2 linked regions of the Homo sapiens genome follow. The protein of the gene in region 2 binds, or shares a complex with, the protein of the main gene of each other region. Each region holds a gene or a part of one and is shown on either strand. Other genes may lie near its edges.

Region 1 (3,816 bases), on a different chromosome or scaffold from region 2:
CACGTGGTTCCCTGCGCTGCCCACCAGGGCAGGTCATTAGCCCCCAAGGCTGCCCAGGGGACCCCGGAACTCCAGCTGTCCCCAGGTCTTCCTGCTGCCCCGGCTGCTGCCCACTGCCTGTCAGGTGGTCCCTGTGCCCAGAACCAGGTTGGCCATGCAGCTCTGTGGGAGGTGGCTGGGACGAGGGGACACCTGGAAAACCAGAGCCAGCCCCATGTCATCAAGGGACCTGTTGAAGGACTGAGGAGAAAGGAGGCAACAAAGCCAGAACAGGAGTCAAGGGATTAAGAAACGTGGGTAACATAAATAAACATGGACTAAGAAAATGCTCAGGTCGTCCAGGCACAGTGGCTCACGCCTGTAATCCCAGCACTTTGGGAGGCCAAGGCAGGTAGATCACTTGAGGCCAGGAGTTGGAGACCAGCCTGGCCAACATGGTAAAACCCTGTCCCTATTAAAAATACAAAAATTAGCTGGGCGTGGTGGCGTGTGCCTGTAGTCCCAACTACTTAGGAGGCCAAGGCAGGAGAATCGCTTTAACCTGGGAGGCAGAGGTTGCAGTAAGCTGAGATCACACCACTGCACTCCAGCCTGGGCGACAGAGTCTGTCTCAAGAAAAAAGAAAAAGAAAAAAGGAAATGGGGTGGAATTAAAACAGCCAACAGCACTGCCATGAGACGAGGAGAGAGTTTCTGCCAGCCTGGTCTGGGAGGAAGGCAGAGACTACCTCATAACTTTGGACTTTTTTTTTTTTTTTTGAGATGGAATCTTGCTCTGTCCCCCAGGCTGGAGTGCAGTGGCGCGATGTCGGTTCACTGCAAGCTCCGCCTCCCAGGTTCATGTCATAGTCCTGCCTCAGCCTCCTGAGTAGCTGGGACTACAGGCGCCCGCCATCACGCCCAGCTAATTTTTTTGCATTTTTAGTAGAGACGGGGTTTCACTGTGTTAGCCAGGATGGTCTCAATCTCTTGACCTTGTGATCCACCTGCCTTGGCCTCCCAAAGTGCTGGGATTACAGGCGTGAGCCACTGCACCTGGCCAACTTTGGACTTTAAATAGATGTCCTTCTTAACCTTAGACCAGAAGTAAAACATCTAATTTCCAAACCAGCAGAAAGAGAAGAGAAGCAAATGAAAATAAATATAAAAAATGGTAACTAGAAAGCAACAAGATCATAGAACGCAACAGACCACCTGAAGAATTAAGTCCACATTTAAGATTGTCAGGATTGGCCAGGCACAGTGGCTCACGCCTGTAATCCCAGCACTTTGGGAGGCCAAGGTGGGCGGATCACAAGGTCAGGAGATCGAGACCATCCTCGCTAACACGGTGAAACCCCATCTCTACTAAAAATACAAAAAATTAGCCAGGCGTGTGGCGGGCGCCTGTAGTCCCAGCTACTAGGGAGGCTGAGGCAGGAGAATGGCATGAACCTGGGAGGCGGAGCTTGCAGTGAGCCGAGATCGCGCCGCTGCACTCCAGCCTGGGGGACGGAGCGAGACTCCGTCTCAAAGAAAAAAAAAAAAAAGACTGTCAGGATGAAGGAGAACACGACAGACCCCAGCTGTGAGCCTTCAAAAAGCCCTCAGAGGGCAGAGCCAGAGAGGCTGAAAAGAAAACGATGGAAGACATGGGGTGGGTCCCGGCGCTGGCGGCACGGAGCACTCCCCAGGGTGGTGCAGGCAGGCACAGCCCACAACCCGGCTGGTGAGACACAGGACTTAACCTCCACTGCATCAAACATGCACCCCCCAGCCACGCAGGGACACGCTCCTGAGCCCACCAAGTCTGACCACACCCGAGGCCACCAGACAAGTGTCCGCAGATGTGACATCTGCAACGGTGCAGACCTGAGCTCTGACCTGCAAGCAGTTCCCTCTCTTGCTGATTTCTAACACAGTGAAGGAAACTAGAAGCAGAATTAAACTCAGATAAGAGGAAAGTAAAAGAACCATCCTGAGGCAAGCTCCTCCTAGAAAATCTTTTTTTTTTTTTGGAGACGGAGTCTCGCTCTGTCACCCAGGCTGGAGGGCTGGAGTGCAGTGGCGCGATCTCGGCTCAATGCAAGCTCTGCCTCCTGGGTTCACGCCATTCTCCTGCCTCAGCCTCCTGAGTAGCTGGGACTACAGGCGCCTGCCACCATGCCCGGCTAGTTTTCTGTATTTTTAGTAGAGATGGGGTTTCACCGTGTTAGCGAGGATGGTCTCGATCTCCTGACCTCGTGATCCGCCTGCCTCGGCCTCCCAAAGTGCTGGGATTATAGGCATGAGCCACCGCGCCTGGCCTCCTCCTGGAAAATCTTTAATTACAAGAATCACAAAAGGGAAAACAAAGCTGTAACAAATTAAAGTCTAATGATCTTTGAATACGGTAAAATAGGCAAACCTTTGGCAACAGTTGTCCAAGAAAGCACAAAATACTACTAGAAATAAGAAAAGAAGGCCGAGTGTGGTGGCTCATGCCTGTAATCTCGGCACTTTGGGAGGCTGAGGTGGGTGGATCACCTGAGGTCAGGAGTTGGAGACCAGCCTGGCCAACATGGTGAAACCCTGTCTCTACTAAAGTACAAAAAATTATCCTGGTGTGGTGGTGGGCGTCTGTAATCCCAGGAGAACCGCTTGAACCCAGGAGGCAGAGGTTGCAGTGAGCCGAGATCCCGCCATTGCACTCCGGCCTGGGTGACAAGAGTGAAACTCCATCTCAAAAAAAAAAAAAAAAAAAAAAAAGAGAAGGTGGCAACTGATCTGTCAGCAGTTTCACAGGCTGGTTAAGCCAAAGAGAAATAAAAAATAATAAAATGATTCCCTGCCCTGGCCCCTGCCAAACAACAAAAACAAACCACGCACCCAACCTACTTGAAAATAACCAACAGTCCTAGGCAATCCTTGGCTGAGAAGAAATTGAAAGGGAAGCTACCAACAACCAGCAAGCAGTGAAGAGGGAACATGCACCCTCAAAATGACAGACGTGGCTATCAGAAACACACATGGATTAAAGTGAGGAAGGAGGAAAAGCACCATGAAGAAGCAAAGACAGAAACTGAAAACAATTACAAACCCTTCAAAGTGAAGTGAAAACAGACAAACCCTTCAAAGACCACTAAGGGACTGAGGAATGGAAAGTGTGATTAGGCATGAGAAAAAAAGGTCAGCACAGCGAGGCCAAGAGAATACCAGCCTTCATGGAAACAAGTGCCCGTTAACCCTGAAATGAAAGCCCCAAGGAAGTGGCACGAATAGCTGCCAGCTGCCTTTGCCCAGCTGTTAAGCACAGCTGACTCGTTTGATTTTTTTTTTTTTTTCCAGACAGGGTCTCACTGCTGCCCAGGATAGAGTGCAGTGGCGCGATCCTAGCTCACTGCAGCTTTGACTTCCCAGGCTCAGATTATCCCCCCACCTCACCCTCCCAAGCAGCTGGGACTACAGGCGCACGCCACCATGCCCCGCTAATTTTTTTTATTTTTTGTAGAGATCGGGTTTTGCCATGTTGCCCAGGCTGCTCTCGAATTCCTGGGCTCAGGCAATCCACCTACCTCAGCCTCCCAAAGTGCTGGGATTACAGGTGTGAGCCACCACGCCTGGCCATCCCTGTGATTTTAACCATTCCAGGCCACAAAGCCACAGCCAGCCCTGCTCGTAACATGCAGGGGCCACACCTGTCACAGCAAAACCTGCTGGAGCCAGTCCACACAACCGAGACCACGTGTGACAGTGAGCTGGCAGAAGGCCACGGCGAAGCCACGACAGGCCAGGGTTCACCCCAGAATGCCACGGAGACACCCATCCACTCTGGCCTTGTAGTGGCCACATCCACAAA
Region 2 (3,556 bases):
TGGAGGCTAGGAGTTCAAGATCAGCCTGGTCAACACAGCAAGACCCTGTCTCTACAAAAAGTTAAAAACAAAAAACCAGCCAGGTGTAGCAGCATGTGCCTATAATCCCAGCTACTTGGGAGGCTGAGGCGAAGGGATCACCTGCGTCCAGGAAGGCTGCTGTGAGCTATGATCATCCCACTGCACTCAGCGTGGGTGACAGCATGAGACCCTGTCTCAAAAACAAACAAAAAACAGATGGACACCTAACCACTGATTTTATGCAATACAGAAACCTGCCCAAGATCAGATGTATAACTCACAAATGGGAAAAAAAGTTTAAACACCAATATTTTAATGCCCCAATGACATTTTCTCTGCTTCAAAGTGACCATATACATATTTATAAAAGGGTGTCCAAAATAAGGCAGACACATACTCTTGGCGGTGATGGGCTCGGTGTTGGGCTTTTGGCCTTTTTGACCGGTACAGCTGGTGACCAGTTTGTAGACGGTGACTGAGACTGGACGGGGGATGGAGGTGCTGGGGGCTTTTTAGCTGCTGGCTCAGGAGACCCGGAGACAGATCGGGAGGATGAGACCCTTCTTACAGACTGTGGGCTTGGGGAAGCAGCCCTAGACAAAAAGGAAAAAACATTCAGCATTGAGAACAGCCATCTCTCTTCACATGAGAAAACCACCAACTACACTGTACAACCAGGTTATGAATTTCAAATATACCACTTAGATTGCTGGTTGATTCAACTAACATATATCCAATTTACATTACCTATGTTTCCCAGAGGGTGGCTAAAGCCCCATAATCCTCTATCTATTCTGTTAATGATGCTTCTTATGTAAGATTAGTAATGTCAGTTCCTTACATCACACACAAGAAATGTTCAATGTCTTACTCAAGTTTAGTTTTGGAAGCATACCCCTCAAAAACAAATTAATAACTGCTAAGAACCAAGTAAAAGCCTGTGGCATTTAACTTATACCACAGAAACTATCCCAAAAAATGGAATAAGATCTGTAAATAGTACCTCAAGTTTGACTTAAAAGCTCATATTCATAACTTATTCCTTTTATATGGGGGTGGGGGGAAGCTTCCAAATATAAACAGCTATGTAAGTATTCCTAATGGAAAAGCATAAAATATTTTTACTTTTTTATCTTTTTAGGTTCCGGAGTCCTGGAGACTCTCCTAATGGGCCTAGTACTTGGAGACGGGGACTGCCTTCTTTGGGGTGATGACGACGCTCCTCTTCGAACGGGTGGAGGACTTGAGGAGGTCTGAGGAGCTCGAGGCCGTGGTGAGGGCGAATGCCGTTTGTTTGGTTGTGGTGATCGGGCCTCCCGGGTAGAGCGGCTTGGGGAAGACCCTTTCCTATGCTTGGATGATAATGAAGGTGAACGTCTCTTGGTGACTGGGGAGCTTCTTTGTTTGGGAGGTGGAGAATGGGAGACCCGCCGCTTTGGTGGTGGAGATGGTGATGCTCTTCGTTTAGGAGGGGGAGGAGGTGAAGCCGTTCTTCTCTTTGGAGGTGGAGAAGGAGAGTATCTCCTCTGTATTGGAGGAGAGTATCTTCTAGGAGAAGGTGAGCGCCGACGTGGGGGAGGAGAAGGAGTCCTAGGAAAAAGATACATAATTAAGCTGAAAGGCTCAACAAAATACAGAAACAGGATGAAAAGTAATCAGTAGGTTTGGCTATACTGTAGTTAGCACTAGGCAAAGGGAATATATTTATAAGTGAACATGCTATCTTTATATTCTCACTTAAATATCAATAAAACTTGTTTATCTCAGCTGACTGCAACACAGGACACTGTCTGCAGGACTAAGTACAAAAAAGAAAAAAAGACATTTTGATTAACAAAAATTTGCAATTTTCAGAAGATGTGAATTTGTCAATCTTTTAACATCTATACAAAATTAACGTTTTTTGAAAACAGAATCTTGCACTGTATTAACTGAACATCAGTTATTATATAATAACCAAGTAACTGTATTAGCAAAACTCTATTATGGTCACCTTAGGAAGTCTGCACTTTAAAGAGGTCTCCTATGTGGTATCCTCTCTGAATGAGCATTTGGACACTGTATGAATAATTAAGAGTTCACTGCACAAGCCTTAAAGACACTTCTACCTCCCCTCAAAGAGACTGTTCCATTTTCTGTCTCAAAAGGCCACTTTTCAGGCCAAACTGCCTAATTTCCTCTTGGATATTGCAGACTTTTAGATCAAAGTAAATTCCTGCCCAGAGTTAGCTTTACAATAGGCCATATATTTTGGCAATGTGGTAGGGCACAATTTCATCACTGTATCTGGGTAATTACTTAGTAATTCTCAACTCCCATTTCCTCACCTGAAAAATGCAAACAATACCAACTATCAAGCAAGGTCGCTTTGAAGACTAGTAGTAAAGCATATAAAGCACCTAGCACTTTGCCTGGCACTTAACAGGCATTCAAGAGTGGCAGCCAGGCTGGGCAGAGTGGGTCACACCTGTCATCCCAGCACTCTGGGAGGCTGAGGCGGATCACCTGAGGTCAGGAGTTTGAGACCAGCCTGGCTACCATGGTGAAACCTCATCTCTACAAAAAATACAAAAACTGGCTGGGTGTGGTGGCAGATGCCTGTAATCCCAGCTACTCGGGAGGCTGAGGCAGGAGAATCGCTTGAACCCAGGAGGCGGAGGTTACAGTGAGCTGAGATCGGCCACTGCACTCCAGCCTGGGTGACAGAGTGAGACTGTCTCAAAAAAAAAAAAAAAAAAAAAAAAAAAGAGTGGCAGCATGTCATTACATTGCTTGGCAACATATCCGAGCAATGACATTAAAACATTTTCCCCTAATTTTCACTTTAAAATAGTTGTAAAGAAGAGCTACAAAAATAGGAGATTTGCCACTTCACCATGCTAATATTTTATATAACCATAAGAAAATTAGCAAAACTGTAAAATGAACCTCAGTGATAACTTAGTATTACTAAAATAGCAAACAACCCAGTTTTCCACTACTGAATGTCCCTTTTCTGTTCCAGGACTTAATCAATGTTCCTTTTCTGCTCCAGGACCCTACATCTCTTTAGTTCTTGCCAATCTGTGACTGTTTCTGTCATTGTCTTTCATGACTGACACTTTTGAATACTGGTCAGGTATTCTGTAAAATGACTTTCAATTTGGGTTTGTCTGATTATTTCCTAATAATAAGACTGAGGTTTGGCATAATTGGTAAGCATACTACAGAGGTATCCAGGAAATACACGATGCCAATGTTTTATTGAGGATGTTATCTTTGATTATTTAGGTAAGAGATATCTGCCAGTATCCTCTAAATTTTCTCTTTACAATTACTAGTCAATACCATCTTTTAATGTATTAACATCTTTATGACAATACATGATTCACCTGCTATAAAATCTACCTATTTACCCATTTAAGGTCCATTTAAAGTATACAATTAAATGATTTTAGTATATTCATATAGTTCTGCAGCTATTACCATCCCCATGTCCACCCCACCCTAATCTGTTTTCTATCTCTATAGATTTGTGTATTCTAGACTTTTCATA

Evidence for each region.
Region 1: SRRM1 (region 2) and PPIL2 share a complex: the UniProt entries of both Homo sapiens proteins name them as parts of the minor spliceosome.

What each region holds. Positions count from the first base shown.
Region 1 is NC_000022.11:21,689,868-21,693,683, reverse strand, and holds part of PPIL2 (RING-type E3 ubiquitin-protein ligase PPIL2), read right to left. Parts: intron 2,300-3,816; coding exon of another isoform or gene 2,191-2,299; exon of another isoform or gene 1,506-2,190; intron 1-1,505. UniProt on the Homo sapiens protein: Has a ubiquitin-protein ligase activity acting as an E3 ubiquitin protein ligase or as an ubiquitin-ubiquitin ligase promoting elongation of ubiquitin chains on substrates.
Region 2 is NC_000001.11:24,667,178-24,670,733, reverse strand, and holds part of SRRM1 (serine/arginine repetitive matrix protein 1), read right to left. Parts: intron 1,612-3,556; coding exon 1,147-1,611; intron 615-1,146; coding exon 419-614; intron 1-418. UniProt on the Homo sapiens protein: Part of pre- and post-splicing multiprotein mRNP complexes. As a component of the minor spliceosome, involved in the splicing of U12-type introns in pre-mRNAs. Involved in numerous pre-mRNA processing events.